Linked DNA regions of Homo sapiens: region 1 is linked to region 2. The links come from fine-mapping of genetic effects on gene expression. A gene starts in region 2. The other region holds a variant in brackets. All regions are shown on one strand. Distances are from middle to middle.

Region 1 (8,707 bases), 150 kb after region 2:
GGCGTGAGCCATCTCACCCAGCCTTCCGCATTCTATTGTTTCATCTTTTTGTACTGTACATTAGATCTACAGAGTACTCTGCAGGCAGTTAAGTTATAAAATGGTGAGGAAATAGCTCCAATCTCCATATCTCTTTCTTTGGCATGACTGAAGTCAGAGTTGGGGTGGGGTTAGACTGGACTCGCCCCCATCAATTTCAGCATATTTTCATCCAATGTACAGGCAGCTGCCCCTACCTTTTGATACCCTCTTCCTTACCAATGCCAAAATGAAACAAAACAAAACAATACCCACTTGAGACAGACTTTAAGGTGGCCCTGTGACCCCTGCCTCCGGGTATTCAGCCCCGTATAATTCCCTAATCCCCTTTCCTTGAGTGTGGGCAGGGTCTGTGACTTGCTTTTAACCAATAGACAATGATAAAAATAATGGGATGTCATTCCTATGATTACATTTTTATAAGACTGTCTTGTTAGCTGCCTGACACTAGAGCCTGCCTGTCTCTCTGTGTGGGTCTCTGTCTTTCTTCCTGGCTTCGAGGAAGCAATCTACTGTGAATCCTACAGCTGAAAGCAAATGAATTCTACCAAGCCGAGGGAGCCTGAAATTGGATCCTTCCCTGCTAGAGCCTCTGAGGAGAACCCAGACCTGGCTGACACCTGGATTGCAGCCTGTGACTCTGAAGCAGAGAACTCAATTCTGCCTCTCTCTTCCATTTTGAAGGGCAGTCTTGCAGTCTCTGCATTTTAGTCTCTCTTCTTCTTCTTCTTTTTTTCTTTTTGTGAGACAGAGTCTTGCTCTGTCGCACAGGCAAGAGTGCAGTGGCACAATTTTGGCTCACTGCAACCTCGGCTTCCCAGGTTCCAGCGATTCTCCCGCCTCAGCCTCCCTAGTAGCTGGGATTACAGGTGTGCACCGCCACGCCTGGCTACTTCTTGCATTTTTAGTAGAGGTTTTGCCATGTTGGCCAGGCTGGTTTCAAACTCCTGACCTCAAGTGATCTGCCTGCCTAAGCCTCTCAAAGTGCTGGTTTTACAAGCATAAGCCACCATGCCTGGCCAAGAAATTTCCTGAAATTTCTTACTCACTAACATGGATCATAATTAGCCCTTCCCATTCTCAATTATATTTTGCTGTATTAACCTTTTTATTCTTTTACTTTCCTTTTAGTGTTCTCTGAAAAGGGAGAAAAAAATAACACACGCTCAGTCCAGCATCCTGAAGAGAATGTATATTCTTCCTCTACCTCCATCTTGCAAGACTAGCAGAAAATTTGATCTCAGTCAGTTTTGGGTCCTCTTTAATTCTCATAGTTACATCAGCTTGTAGGAGATTTTAGAGGTGGCCAGGGGCATCTCATCTTTGGGTCATAGAAGCTATTGGCAGGTTTATTTATTTAATTATTTATTTTTGAGACAGTCTCGCTCTGTTGCCCGGGCAGGAGTGCAGTGGTACGATCTTGGCTCACTGCAACCTTCACCTCCTGGGTTCAAGCCATTCTTGTGCCTCAGCCTCCTGAATAGCTGGGATTACAGGTGTGTGCCACCACGCTTGGCTAACTTTTTTTTTTTTTTTTTGAGATGGAGTCTCGCTCCGTAGCCCAGGCTGGGGTGCAGTGGCTCGATCTTGGCTCACTGTAACCTCCACCTCCTGGGTTCAAGTAATTCCCCTGCCTCAGCCTCCCAAATAGCTGGGACTACAGGCATGCACCACCACACCTGACTAATTTTTGTATTTTTAGTAGAGGTGGGGTTTCACCATGTTGGCCAGGCTGGTCTCAAACTCCTGACCTCAAGTGGTTCACCCACCTCAGCCTCTCAAAGTGCTAGAATTACAGGCATGAGCTACTGTGCCCAGCCCCTGGCTAACTTTTGTATTTTTAGTAGAGACAGGGTTTTACCATGTCACCATGTTGGCCAGGCTAGTCTTGAACTCTTTGTTTGTCTGTTTTTTTCTTTTATTTATTTATTTATTTATCATTATTATTATTTTTTGGTCTCAAACTCCTGACCTCAGGTGATCTACCCGCCTCGGCCTCCCAAAATGCTGGGATTACAAGTGTGAGCCAGCAGATCCAACCTTTTTTTTTTTTTTTTTTTTTTCTGGAGCCAGTGTCTTGCCCTGTTGCCCAGGCTGGAATGCAGTGTTGTAATTTTGGCTCACTGCAACGTCAACCTCCTGGGCTCAAGCAATCTTTCCACCTCAGCCTCCCGAGTAGCTGGGACTATAGGCACTTGCCATCACGCTTGGCTAATTTTTAAATTTTTTTTGTAGAGACAAGGTCTCACTATATTGCCCAGGGTGGTCTCCATCTCCTGACCTCAAGCAATCTTCCCGCTTTGGCCTTCAAGTAGCTGGGACCACAGGTGTGCATCATTATGCCTGGCTTTTATTTATTTATTTAGAGACAAGGTCTCACTATGTTGCCCGGTCTGGTCTTGAACTCCTGGGCTCAAGCTATCCTTCCCTCTTTGGCATCCCAAAGTGCTGGAATTACCAGCATGGGAGCCATCTTGCCTTGGCAAAGCTGTTTCAAAAAAAAAAAGAAAACCTGGGCGCAGGGTCTCACGCCTGTATTCCCAGCACTTTCGGAGGCTGAGGCCGGTGGATCACCTGAGGTCAGGAGTTCGAGACCAGCCTGATAACATGGAGAAACCCTGTCTCTACTAAAAATACAAAAAATTAGCCGGGCATGGTGGCACATGCCTGTAATCCCAGCTACTCAGGAGTCTGAGGCAGGAGAATTGCTTGAACCCGGGAGGCGGTGGTTGTGGTGAGCTGAGATCGTGCCATTGCAATCCAGCCTGGGCAACAAGAGCGAAACTCCATCTCAAAAAAGAAAAGAAAAAAATACTCCTATACGTGGCATGCCAGGATCAGTGCTGAGGCCCCTTCTTTTCTTTCTTACACAATATCTCTAGGTAACCTATCCAATCCTGGGCTTAAGTGATCACCAATGATCCACAAATCTAACTTCAGCCTTGCTTGAATCTCCCCTGAATCTAGCCTGTGCATGCAGTGACATTTCCTCCTGGATGCTTGATAGGCAGCTCTAATTTCCCCCTAATACCTACCCTTTCCCTGTCTTCCTAAGTCTGATTTATGATTTATCACCATCTACTCAGTTTCTTATAAAAAATCTAAAGACCATCCTTGACTCCTCTTTCCATTAACTCTACATCCTATCCACCAGTAATTCATATAAACTCCACTTTCTAAATAATCCCCAATTCAACTACTTCATACCATGTTCTCTGCTACCACCATCTCTCACTGGACACTCAAACACCCTCCTAATTGGTTTCCTTACCTCCTCTTCTGACTCTCTGTAGTCCATCATCCACTCAGATGCCAGGATGATCTTTTATAAAGGTAATTCAGATCTAGTTACTCCCCTTCTTTTTTCTTTTCTTTTCTCTCTTCTTTTCTTTCTTTCTTTCTTTTTTTTTTTTTTTTTTTGACAGAGTCTTGCTCTGTCACCCAGGCTGGAGTACAATGGCGCAATCTTAGCTCACTGCAACTTCCGCCTCCTGGGTTCAAGCAATTCTCCTGCCTCAGCCTCCCGAGTAGCTGGGATTACAGGCGCACACCACCACACCTGGATAATTTTTTGTATTTTTAGTAGAGACAGGGTTTCACCATGTTAGCCAGGCTGGTCTCGAACTCCTGACCTCATGATCCGCCTGCCTCAGCCTCCCAAAGTGCTGGAATTACAGGTGTGAGCCACTGCGCCTGGCCTTTACTCCCCTTCTTCTTTTTTTTTTTCTTTTTTGAGATGGAGTTTCACTCTTATTGCCCAGGCTGGAGTGCAATGGCACAATCTTCCCTCACTGCAACCTCTGCCTCCTGGGTTCAAGTGATTCTCCTGCCTCAGCCTCCCAAGTTTCTGGGATTACAGGCATGTGCTACCACGGCCAGCTAATTTTGTATTTTTAGTAGGGATGAGGTTTCACTATGTTGGTCATGCTGGTCTCGAACTCATGACCTCAGGTGTCAAACTCATGACCTCAGGTGGTCCACCCACCTTGGCCTCCCAAAGTGCTGGGATTACAGGCGTGAGCCACGGCACCTGGCCTTACTCATTTTCTTAAAACCATCCATCGGCTTCAAGTTGCAGTTAGTTTTAAAACCTAAAGTCTGGCTGGGCGCAGTGGCTCATGCCTGTAATCCCAGCGCTTCGGGAGGCCGAGGGAGGTGGATCACCTGGGGTCAGGAGTTTGAGACCAGCCTAGCCAATATAGTGAAAACCCGTCTCTACTAAAAATATAAAAAGTAGCCGGGTGTGGTGGCAGGTGCCTGTAATCCCAGCTACTCGGGAGGCTGAGGCAGGAGAATCGCTTGAACCCGGGAGGCAGAGGTCGCAGTGAGCCGAGATCGCGCCACTGCACTCCAGCCTGGGGGACAAGAGCGAGACTTCATCTCAAAAAAAAAAAAAAAAAAAAAAAAAAAAAAAAAAAACCCAACCTAAAGTCCTTTCTATGATTTACAAATTCCTACACAATCTAATACCTATGTTGCTTTGTACATATTGGCACCATTCTTTCCCACCTTATGACCTTTGTTGGCTATTCCTTTGGTTTCAAATGTTCTTTACTAGGATTGTGGTATAGCTAATTTCTTATCATTCAGAGCTCAGCTTAAATGCTACTCCCTCAGAGGTCTTCCCCGGATACCCAATGTAAGTAGCCACTCTTGAAATTATCTGCTTAGCATTTATTGTTGGTTTTCTCATTTACTGGTGCCTTTATTTTTTAAATTTCAATATTTGAATAGATGACATGTTCACATGCTTCCAAAAAATGAAAAGTAATAAATAGGTATACAGTGAGAAGTCTCTCTTGCTCCTCCCACCTCCTAGTCCTCTGTCTCCCAGGTCCTACCCCTAGATATTTTGTGCAAATATTTTTCTTTTTTTTTTGAGACGGAATCTTACTCTGTCTCCCAGGCTGGAGTGCAGTGGCACATTCTCAGCTCACTGCAACCTCTGCCTCCTGGGTTCAAGCAATTCTCCTCCCTCAGCCTCCTGAGTAGCTGGGATTACAGGTGTTAGCCATCACGCCTGGCTAATTTTTGTATTTTTAGTAGAGACATGGTTTCACCATATTGGTCAGGCTGGTCTCGAACTCCTGACCTCGTGATCTGCCCGCCTTGGCCTCCCAAATTGCTGGGATTACAGGCGTAAGCCACCATGCCCGGCTTTTTCCTTCCTTCCTTCCTTCCTTCTTTCTTTCTTTCTTTTGTTTTTTTTGTTTGTTTGTTTTGTTTTTTTTGAGACAGTGTCTTGGTCTGTTTCTCAGGCTGGAGTGCAGTGGTGCAATCTTGGCTCACTGCAACCTCTGCCTCCCGGGTTCAAGCAATTCTGCTGCCTCAGCCTCCCAAGTAGCTGGGACTACAGGCGCGCGCCACCA[T/C]GCCCGGCTATTTTTTTGTATTTTTAGTAGAGATGGGGTTTCACCACGTTGGCCAGGCTGGTCTCAAACTCCTGACCTGGTGATTTGCCCACCTTGGCCTCCCAAAGTGCTGGGATTACAGGCGTGAGCCACCGCTTCTGGCCTTATTTTTTTTTTTCACAAATAGTAACTTACTATATAATCTCTTATAGAATCTTTTGCTTTCTTTTTGTCTTCATGTAGCTGGGAGATCTGGCTAACTTATTATTTATTTATTTATTTATTTATTTGAGACAGAGTTTTGCTCTTGTCGCCCAGGCTGGAGTGCAGTGGCATGATCTCAGCTCACTGCAACCTCCCCCTCCCAGGTTCAAGTGATTCTCCTGCCCTAGCCTCCCGAGTAGCTGGGATTATAGGCATGCGCCACCATATCTGGCTAATTTTGTATTTTTAGTAGAGACAGGGTTTCTCCATGTTGGTCAGACTGGTCTTGAACTCCCGACCTCAGGTGATCTGCCTGCCTCAGCCTCCCAAAGTGCTGGGATTATAGGCTTGAGCCTCTGCGCCCAGCCTGACTAACTTATTAGTAGGATTTTAGATAGTTCAGAGTACAATAGGAGGGCAGGAGAACCGGGTTCAGGTTCAAGACAAAGAACTGAGACAAAGAACCACAGCAACAGGTACCATTTGGCCAACATATGCTGCCAGATAAGTGAAGCGTTTTCTCCACTCAAGAATCTCCTTGGAGACAGTCCAACTGGCCAAGATTAGGTCATGTATCCAACCTTTGACTGTACAGGTCACTGAGAGGAAAGATATAACAATGTCCTGATACCCCTTGGCTTCTGTATGGGTTACTTTGGCTGTGCCCAACTGGGGAGAGGTAATTCACCAAAAGGAAATTAAACTGTGATTAGGAAGAATTAGGATGGGAGAATAGCCAATAAACAAGGGTATTAATAGCACCTACAGAGTTCATGCCTTTTTATGCATTAAGTATACCTTTTATATATTAAGTATATATTTAGTAAAACAAAAAAAACTAGGTCAACAGTAGAGGTCCAAGAGTATTGTTTTTCTTTTAAAGGACATGGTACATTATTTGAATTGGAAAAATCCTGCCATGAATCCATGTTAAAGAGATGTTTTCCAGCTGCCTTACTATGAAGTCAGCGTCTCACCAGCAGAGTGCAATTGGTCTGTAAGGCATAACAAAAAGACCTTGTATTAAGTCAGTCATAGCCTTTGAAAGGCCATTAGTTAACCAAAGGCCATATTTAAGTTTTGCTTTGTAAGGTCTCTACGAAATACTTAGCTAAGGCCATTCTCTTACTCGTTTTCTATCTGGGTGAAGGGGATTGGTTTGTTTCTTTTAGTTACATTGTTATTTATTATAGACATTTTGATTTGGAGAGGTCTTCAGCAAGAAATTACAACTTTAAGTTAGAGATACAGCAAATTTAATGAGTGGCTAGGGAAACATGTCAGACATATTATGAATACAGGCATGAATGTGAGAACTTGTAGGATATCTTTTTTTTTTTTTTTTTTTTGAGACAGAGTCTCGCTCCGTTGCCCAGGCTGGAGTGCAGTGGCGCCATCTTGGCTCACTGCAACCTCCACCTCCTGGGTTCAAGGGATTCTCCTGCCTCAGTCTCCTGAGTAGCTGGGACTACAGGCATGTGCCACCACACTCGGCTAATTATTGCATATTTAGTAGAGATGGGGTTTTGCCATGTTGGCCATGGTGGTCTTGAACTCCTGACTTCAAGGGATTCACCTGACAGACACATGCAGGAGCAACTGGCTAATTTTTTTATGTCTATTTTTTGTGGAGATGAGGTTTCTTCATTTTGCCTAGGTTGGTCTTGAATTCCTGGCCTCCAGCGATCTTTCTGCCTCGGCCTCCCAAAATGCTGGGATTACAGGCTTGAGCCACTGCACCTGGCTGGATATCTTTAGTTAAGAATGAATAGATAGGGTTAGGTGAAGTAAACCCTATTAAGGAATGATGGGAGATAAGACGGGAAGCAGATTATAGAGAGCTTTGACAGTGAAGCTAAGGTGTTTGTCCTACAAAGGATTTTTGAACAGAGGTATTCAACATAAAAAGCAGTAATATTAATCTGGCAGTTGTGTGCAAGATGGGCTGAAAGAACAGATCCAGTAAGTCAGGAAACATTAATTGTCCATATATGCTATGACATTCCAAGCCAGCTGGGAATTACTGGTGTGATCTTTGGTTTGTTGCAGCAGTCACTAGCTAAATAATATATTCCTATTGGAGCCATGATGTGACACAGGAAACTGCATCAAATTCTTCCAACTTCCTCATTAAATTGATACTCATAGGTGACTTTCAGTCTCAATAAATTGAGAATTTCTCCCAATATTAATGACATTCTCACGGTGCTGGATCCTCTCTTGCCTTCCTCTGAACTATCAGAATTTATACTCAGATTTTTTCTTAATCGTTATAATACTGTCTTAAATTGTATATATTTTATCTTTAGTGCTAACTCATTTATACAATGCTACAATTTTATTTTAATTTATTTTAATTTATTTTAATTATTTTAATTTATTTAATTTATTTTAATTTACTTTTTTTTTTTTTTTTTTGAAGCGGAGTCTTGCTTTGTCGCCCACGCTGGAGTGCAGTGGCGCCATCTTGGCTCACTGCACGCTTTGCCTCCCGAGTTCACGCCATTCTCCTGCCTCAGCCTCCCAAGTAGCTGGGACTACAAGCGCCCACCACCACGCCCAGCTAATTTTTTGTATTTTTAGTAGAGACGGGGTTTCACCGTGTTAGACAGGATGGTCCCGATCTCCTGACCTCATGATCCGCCCGCCTCGGCCTCCCAAAGTGCTGGGGTTACAAGCGTGAGCCACCGCACCCGGCCTAATTTTTACTATTTTTTTTGAGACAGAGTTTCGCTCTTGTTGCCCAGGCTGGAGTGCAATGGCAAGATCTCAGCTTACCCCAACCTCTGCCTCCCGGGTTTGAGCGATTCTCCTGCCTCAGCCTCCGAGTAGCTGGGATTACAGGGCAGGCACCACCACGCCCGGCTAATTTTGTATTTTTAGTAGAGGTGGGGTTTCTCCATGTTAGTCAGGCTGGTCTCGAATTCCTGACCTCAGGTGATCCACCTGCCTCGGCCTCCCAAAGTGCTGGGATTACAGGTGTGAGACACTGCGTCTGGCCATTTGTTTGCTTTTTTTTTTTTTTTTTTGAGACGGAGTCTCGCTCTGTCACCCAGCCTGGAGTGCAGTGGCATGATCTTGGCTCACTGCAACCTCCGCCTCCCAGGTTCAAGCGA
Region 2 (8,707 bases):
AATGCAAAACTGTGGCTTGGAAACAAATACTATTATGTTAAAAATTTTTAATAAATTGAGGTGATGTCATAAACTAATAGGGAAATAATGGGCCAGGACAATAGTTAGCTATATGAAAAAAATTAATTAATTTTGAGATCCTTGCATTACACCATATTCCTAAATAAATTCCAAATGGATTAAAACATTAAATAAAACAAACAAGAATATTGACCAGATCTCACGATCAGAATCATCCTAAAATATGGAAAAAAATTAAATATTGATCATTTGAATTTATAAAAATTTAAAGTGTTTTTGTGTCCTAAAAGTTATAAAATTAGAAGGCAAGAAAACTGAGGAAAAATAAAGGGCTTATACAAATGGATAAAAGGAAGATACATGACTAATTAACAAAAGAAATAGAAACAGCTAACGAACATAAGAATATTCAATCTCATTGATGAAAAGTTTTGTCCTTTGAATTAATAAAGAACTTTTTTAAAATATGAGGGTGAGATAAGAGAAACATATTGAAGGCAGACATACACATTGAAACAATAGCAGTATGAATAAAGCGGCTTAAAAATAATATCAGAAAAGGAAATTATCTGAAATGTGGAAAAAGTTTTGTGCACAGAAGTGCCAGTATTACTTATTATAGTGGAATAATGGAAACAACCTGTATGTCCAATAATACGGGACCAGATAAGAAATTATAGTGTGGACAAATGATTAAGTTATATTTTCTGAGACTACTAATTAAATATGGGAAGGCTTATAGGTTAGGTGAAAATAGTTGGATATAAATTCTAACTTACAGTATGAATGGCAAATTTTTTTAATGAAAAAACTTTTAAAAAATGTATGAATTGTATGTAGTATGATTTCTTATATTCTTCTGTTTTCCAAGATCCTTTTCATAATCATGTATTACATTGGTAATCAGAAAAAAAAATTCTTCTTTAGAGCCTTCACAATAAAGTCCAAATTCCTTAGCAAAGTTTATGATTACAACCTGGCCTCTGCCTTCTGTTCACCTTCTCATCATTGCCGTGTTCCTAACTTGCACTAAGGTCATACCAATTGCTTACATTTCCCTAATTGCCGTGTCATCACTAGCTCAGGTTTATTTATTTTATTTTTTATTTTTTTGCCTACAGTGCTCTTGAATGTCCTTCCTACTTTCTGGCCCTGTTAACTGGCCACTTTGACTTCAAGCCCCGGCCCTGTATTTTCAAGAGATAGCCTCCTCTGGGGACCCTTGAGTAGAGTTAAATATAGTTGGCCCTCCATATCCCTGGGTACTGCATCTATGAATTCAACCAACCTCAAATTCAGGAAAAAAGCAAACTTGAATTTGCGCATGCCATTGAATCCACGTGAATGAAGTGATGCGTAGACATCATATTAGGTGTTATAAGTAATTTAGAGATGATTTCGCGTATATGAGAGGATGTGTGTATGTTATATGCAAATATTATACCATTTTATATAAGGGACTTGAGCATCCATGAATTTTGGTATCCATAGAAGGTCCAGAACCAATCCCCCATGAGTAGAGACAGCTGTACCCCCTGCTTTGTGCTGCTCTAACATCCTGTGCATTCCTTTCTCAGAGCACTTATCACATTGAATTGCCATCATGGTTACCAACCACCCTAGTTTGTCTCTCCCTAATTCTAATTCTGTTAACTTGTTCCTACTTACCCTATGAGCCCCTTGAGTGCACAGACTGTTTATATCACTACTGAGTTTTTTTATTCTTTCCATTACACATACTGTCACTTTTACCTTTTTTTTTTTTTTTTAGAAACAAGGTCCCACTCTGTCACCCAGACTGAGTCCTGTGGTGTGATCATAGCTCACTCTAACCTTGAACTCTGGGGCTTAAGTGATCATCCTGCCTCAGCCTCCCGAGTAGCTGGAACTATAGGCGTATACCACCATGCCCAGCTAATTGTTAATTTTTTGTAGAGACGAGGTCTTGCTATGTTGCCCAGGCTGGTCTTGAACTCCTGGACTCAAGTGATCCTCCCACCTCAGCCTCCTAAAGTGCTGGGATTACAGGAATTACTGTCTTGCAATCTTCACTCACTTTAGTCATGAGATTATTAGGGGACAGTAGAAAACAGGTAAGTGGAAAGGTCACTGGTCCTATGAACAAGTACTATAGACAGCTCCCACTCTGATGTGATTTGAAGGATGTTACAAAGTTATTCAAAACTATTTTTGTTACAAGCTTGTCAGAGAGCCAGTGAAAAACTTCCCCTCTAGGTTGTTAAGTGAAACAACACCTTGATTATTTAATATATTCGGATGACTTATGTTTATTCTTCCCTTTAGTGCTCATTGTAACTTTGAACAGTTGTTTAAATACTGCTAGTTGATACTGCAATCTGTGTCATTTCAATCCCACACTCACAATTCCCCTACCCGGCCCTAATTGTTATATTTTCCAGAGCAGGAATAACCTTCTAACATGCTGGTTGAGTATATTTCTTTATTATGTCTATAGTCTGCGCCCTACTCCCCATCAACACAGGATAGGGATCTTTATTTTGTTCACTGGTGTATCTAAAGTACCTACAAAAGTGTCTGGTACATAATAGACACTCAATAAGTATTTGTCGAATGACTAGCTCTGCTGAAATGAGGGATTAGTCCTCTTTTTAGGATAACTCATTCTAATTCACAAAATGAAAATTTTACAATATCAACAGAGGCCATTTACTACCTTTCCTGAGGATAAAAATAGTATACTTTTTCTGGCAACCAATTATTACTTTCTTGCCTTTTCTTTTTATTTTTTTTTTGTTTGTTTGTTTGTTTTTGAGACAGAGTCTCGTTCTGTCACCCAGGCTGGAGTGCAATGGCGCGATCTCGGCTCACTGCAACCTCCGCCTCCTGGGTTCAAGCGATCCTCCTGCCTCAGCCTCCTGAGTAGCTGGGACTACAGGTGCCCACCACTACGCCAGACTAATTTTTGTATTTTTAGTAGAGACAGGGTTTCACCATGTTACCCAGGCTAGTCTCGAACTCCTGCCCTCAAGTGATCCGCCCACCTCGGCCTCCCAAAGTGCTGGGATTACACGCATGAGCCACGGCGAGCCAAAGTACTTTTTTCCCTTAAGCCTGTTTGAGTTGGGTCTTCTGTCATCCAAGACTTTTTTTCAATAATACAGTCACCTTCTGTTTCCACACTTGTGGAAACTTAAAAAAAAAAAAAAAAAAACCGCGGCCGAGCGCGGTGGCTCACGCCTGTAATCCAAGCATTTTGGGAGGCCGAGGCGGGCGGATCACCTGAGGTCAGGAGCTGGAGACCAGCCTGGCCAACATGGCGAAACCTCGTCTCTACAAAAAAAATACAAAAATTAGCTGGGCGCAGTGGCGGGCGCCTGTAATCCCAGCCACTCAGGAGGCTGAGGCAGGAGAATCGCTTGAACCCAGGAGGCGGAGGTTGCAGCGAGCCGAGATCGCGCCATTGCACTACAGCTTGGGTGACAGAGTGAGACTCCGTCTCAAAAACAAAAGCAGAAACAAAAACCGCCCCATAGCCCAGCCGCTCGTTCTCATCCTTCTCTCCCATCCTCACCCCAGTGCCTTCACCGCCCCGTCCCCGCTTTCCGGCTGCCTCGGCGCGGGCCTGGTGGGCCAGGAGGGCTCCCACCCGGGGCAAAGCCTCAAGACGCGGGGCCGGCGTTCTCCCTGGAAGGCTCGCTGCGGCCACCCTTCCCCAGGTCCCCGGAGCCCACGTTCTCCCAGCTCGCCCGGCTCCCGTTTCGCTCCCAGCTCCAGTATGAACCCGGAGCACGTGCAGTTCTACCCTGATTGGCTCGTCATCATCGTGTTCCACAGCCTAGTCCCCAGCTCGCTGTCTGTCACCCTGCGTTCCCAGAGCACAGAACCGGGCAAAGAGCCGGGAACCCACGGCACCAGAGCTAATCCCTGATGAGTCACCGCTCCAGGCGCGGACACTCGGGCTTCCTCGCCCCACTCTACGGGCCAAGGAGACGTCAGCAGGATCCCACCTCCCACAGCAGTCGAGCAAGAGAGCACGCGGAACAAAGGAGCTCTGCGTGATTTCACACAAGAGCCACTCGGATTTCCTTCAAATCTGAGGCAAAGCGCATTTCCCTTCGCGGCTCCGGGCAGCCTCCGAGCACCGGGTCTCCGGCACTACCTCCCCTGGGCCGTGGGGTGGCAGCAAACGTCAAGGGGGATGCGCATGCTCTGTGTGGGGCCTCGCCCTTCGCCCCCGCGGCCGCCGAGTGACGGAAGCGCGTGCTTAGGCTCATGGGAAATGTGGTTTCTAAACCGCGGGCGCCCCCTGCCTGGGCCCAGAGCGGGACTTCAGCTCCCGGCCGGCTGGCTGGCGCGTGTGGAAACGCGGGAGGAGAGGGCGGGGCGAGTGGGAGAAAAGGTGGGCGGAGCCGGTGGGAAGGCCAGGCGGAGGGGGCGGGGCTTCGGCCGGCTAAGCCGCGGCCACCCGCGGTCTGAGGGACCGGAGGAGCGGGGCCGGGAGCTGCGAGGAGCCCCCCAGACGTCGCCGAGCGCGAGGGCGGGCGTGCTCGGAGTGGTCGCTCGTCAGCCGCCGCCCCTCAGTCTCCGCACTTGCAGGTCCCCTCCCTCTCCGCCGGGACGCGGGAGAGCCCGGCTCGCGGCGGGGGCGGCCAATGCGAAACTGGCTGGTGCTGCTGTGCCCGTGTGTGCTCGGGGCCGCGCTGCACCTCTGGCTGCGGCTGCGCTCCCCGCCGCCCGCCTGCGCCTCCGGGGCCGGCCCTGCAGGTGAGGTCCTGGGGCCGGGCGGGTTGGCGGCCGCCGGGGGGGTGGGAGGCCCGGCTTGGTGCCGCGGGGCTTCGCCGGGAATTGTTGGAGGCGGGGGAAGGGCCAAACGCGACGGTCCCCAGACGAAACAAACGGCTCTTTTCATCCTTGGAGCGTTAACATCGGGCAAACTTGAGGGAGCTTTTCTCTTTTCGTGTCCCCGCCTCTTCTCACTTCCCCGTTTCCCTTAACGCCCGCAGAGCCGGCGCCCGCAGTTGCAAGTCCTTCGCCTGTCCCCAGGCCTGGTTAGTGATGTCCGACGCCGCCCGTTCGCCCGGGAGCGGAACCTCGTGTGCCCTTCAGCCGCCAGCGCTTTCTGCTTTGGGAGCTCTGGCTCTGAAGTTGTTTTCTTCCCCCCCAAGTTGTTGGTCTTTCTCGGTCAAGACTGGGGTTTTAGTGCCGTGGATAATGTGTGTGCGTGTTTTCAAAGGTGGCTCGGTTTTGCTTTTAAGGAATAACTTTGCTGTAAGAATATACTGTAGTTCGTATTCTTGGATTATGATGTAAGTCGGTTAAACAAATCTAGACATGAAATAGGGCATGGCCGAGAGTTGGAGTTGTTCCTGTGAGTTTGGATCGCATAACCTGCTAATGCAGTTTACATGGAAATATCAAATTCTTTAACGATCGTGTCCATTTGCTCTAAAACTTAATCTCTCGTAGGAATGAAACCTTTGTTCTTGTTTCGCGTCACAGCCTAATAGAATGCTTTACTTACGGTGCCCAGCGGATTGTTTTGTTAGTGGGTTCCACCACCCTGAACACTACTTTAGCTTTCCCTGTATCTCTTGTCTTCTTCTTTAAGGGCTTGCCCTAGAACATGAAAGAAACCTAGAAAGCTCTTTTAAATATTATGTAATACTTAATTTTGTAACTATACTGGGACTTTTTTCCCTTACCATCTCTCCCCAAAACAGCTGTTTTCTAATCCAAAAGTTCTTAAAATTAGAATTGAGTGTTTGCAGTTCAGCACTCTATGCCTTATAAGTAGAAAGTATTCGGCAATCCTCAAAACAGTCTCAGTTATATGAAATTATGTTGAGGTTATTTTGGTAACAATCTCTTTTCCTATTAGATCACTAGCTCTTTGAAAAGGATTTGTGTGACCTGAATAGAATTAAACACTATTTAAGTGATTTAATGAAAGTACAGTGTTGCTATGCACTTAACCAGTTGATGGGGTCAGGGTTTTGCTCAGTGTTTTTTAGGTTTTTGTGAAGTGAACTAAGAAGAGAACGCCATATATAAAAAATGCTTTGTAACAGCTGCTTGTGTGTTACAGGTTTCTCTCTTTTGTTATGAGTGAGCCCTGCTGGAATCTCCTTGTAGAGCGTCATTAAGTCTGTTTATGGCCTTAATGGTTGTTTAGGGTTCAGTAAAACAAACAAAAACTGAAATGTTAGTAGACTTCAAACTGAAATCTTAGTAGACTTGCTAGGCAGTTTTCTAGTTTGAGACAAGTTTTTCCTACTCCCTTACTGCACTTGAAGGATGATGCCTTTATCTGCCATCCAGTAGTTAGACCAGGCTAGATTAAGGAAATGAAGAAGTAGACCATAGAAAGGAACAGGGTAATAACGTAGGTAAGAAGATCAATACTAGTTATGTTAATTAACTTTGGCTTTGAATGAGTACTGTGTATCTGGTCAGATAATAAATGGGATTTTTTTTTAAGTTCCGGGATACGTGTGCAGGACGTGCAAGTTTGTTACATAGGTAAACGTGTGCCATGGTGGTTTGCTGCAGCTGTCAACCATCGATATTTTAATAATCTAAGTTAAACATGACTGGCCCGGCGCGGTGCCTCACGCCTGTAATCCCAACACTTTGGGAGGCCGTGGTGGGTGGATCACCTGAGGTCAGGAGTTCAAGACCAGCCTGGCCAACATGGCGAAACCCCGTCTCTACTAAAAATACAAAAATTAGCCGGGCATAGTGGTGCATGCCTGTAATCCCAGCTACTAAGGAGGCTGAGGCAGGAGAATCACTTGAACCTCGGAGGCGGAGGTTGCAGTGAGACGAGATTGCGCCACTGCACTCCAGCCTGGGTGACAAGAGCGAAAGTCCATCTCAAAATAATTAATTAATTAATTAAACAAGACTGACTCCTACCTTTCCTTTTTTCCTTTTGGTACTTTCAAAGCTAAAAGCAGTGGAAGCATCTTAAATGCTAAAATTTCCCATAATTCCTTTACCATTGTGCTGTCACCATGTTGAAACTAAAATAGTTGGGTGTTTTTACATTTTAACCCTTGTACTTTAAGCCTAACAGGAGAAAAAAAAACCCAAGATTTTGCTAAGTATTCTTTTCTTGAATTAACATTTTTAAATGTATTTTTTTTTCTCTTCTGCTGCTTTGTCTGTCTTCAGTCTCATTAAGTAATGGCAGTTTCTTTGTTTTTTTTGAAAGAGCGATTTACCTTCCCTGAATATTAAAAAAGGTTCTTTGGCTCGCAGTTGATTCAGCAAATATTTGAGAGCCTACTCTGTGCCAGCTCCTATCGTAGGTGTGGAATTACAGCAGTAATCAAGCTAAACTTCCTGCCCTCATGTAGTTTACAATTTAGAAGGGAAGACAGAGCATCAGGAAATAATTATAAATATCACAGCGGTAGTGATAAGTATAGGGAAAAAAGATAAAGCAGTGTTAAGAGATTAAAGAGATGGTTTTAAATAGGTCAGGGAAGTCCATTCCATTCTGAAGAGGTAACAGTTGAGCAGGGACCAGAATGAAGTAAGTGAGTCACCTTAGTACCAGAGTCAGCAACTTTTTTAATGTGATAGGTTCCCTTAAACCAGTCAGGGAAAGCAACTGGTAAAGAGGAAGTGAAATCCAGTACACCTGAGGGTGACAGAGGAAAATGCAGGTGGAGATAACCATCGGACTAAGGAATCTAAACATAGGATATCTTGATTACAAAATGCTCGTTTTGGGTAATGCCTTAAGTAGGAATTATTTAACGGTTAATTTAGAAAAATGATGTGACAAAAGAAGGCTTCGCTTTCTAGGGTATCTGGAAAGAAAGAAACCAAAACAAAGGAGCATATTCACTCAACAAGTACTTGAGTGTTAGATTCTGTGCTGGATGCCTAGTCCCTTCTCCCAAGGTGCTCACAGTATCTAATGGAAACAGATGTAGAGCAAGTAGAAGGTCAGAAAACAAATTGAGCTTGCTTTGTAATTTTGCCTGGGGTGAGTTCTTCCAAAATTATCCCTATATGCTAATTGTGTCTCTGTGCTTCAGTTTCCTTATTTATAAGATGATGATCTCATAGACTTATTGTGAAGATTCAATTAATGAAACACCCGCAACAGTGCCTGTTTCATAGTAAACACTCCATGAGTTTGAGAGAGGAGTGGTAGTCTGGTGGCCGCTGATGCCTGTGCTAGTGTGGTGTTTTGGGAGGTGTCTTTGGTAGTGTGTATGATGATTGTCTTTATCATTAGATCTGTGACAGGCTCACATGTTTTCTTCATTTTCAAGATTTGTATCTATTTGTGACTCTTCCAAGAGCATGCATATCAGAGTGGAATTTTGGTGTGATTTTTAAGACTCTTGGGCTTATTTTGAGCAATCAATTTTGATGTCAACCTTCTTTAGACTTTTTTGATTATTATTTTGAGGCACAGTTTCACTCTGTCGCCCAGGCTGGAGTGCAGTGGCACCATCTTGACTAACTGCAACCTCTGCCTCCGGGTTGAAGCCATTCTCCTGCCTCAGCCTCTGTTACATGTGTGTGCCACCACACCCAGCTAATTTTTGTATTATTAGTAGAGACTGCGTTTTGCCATGTTGGCCAGGCTGGTCTCGAACTCCTGACCTCAAGCGATTCATTCACCTCGGCCTCCCAAAGTGCTAGGATTACAGGCATGAGCCACTGCGCCAGGCCCTCCCTTAGA

The links. PIP is the estimated chance that this variant, and not a neighbour inherited with it, causes the effect.
Region 1: its variant is fine-mapped to the expression of B3GALNT2 in fibroblasts (GTEx, PIP above 0.99).

What each region holds. Positions count from the first base shown.
Region 1 is chr1:235,349,532-235,358,238 of GRCh38, reverse strand. No RefSeq gene overlaps it. Among named protein-coding and RNA genes, the nearest start is that of TBCE, 14 kb to the left of the region's middle. The variant T/C (reference allele first, on the strand shown) is at 5,409.
Region 2 is chr1:235,500,201-235,508,907 of GRCh38, reverse strand. B3GALNT2 (beta-1,3-N-acetylgalactosaminyltransferase 2) reads left to right here and starts at 4,456. Exons shown (of 12, transcript NM_152490.5): 1 at 4,456-4,767. The coding sequence starts at 4,656. RefSeq lists enhancers at 3,858-3,977, 3,678-4,354 and a silencer at 4,288-4,927.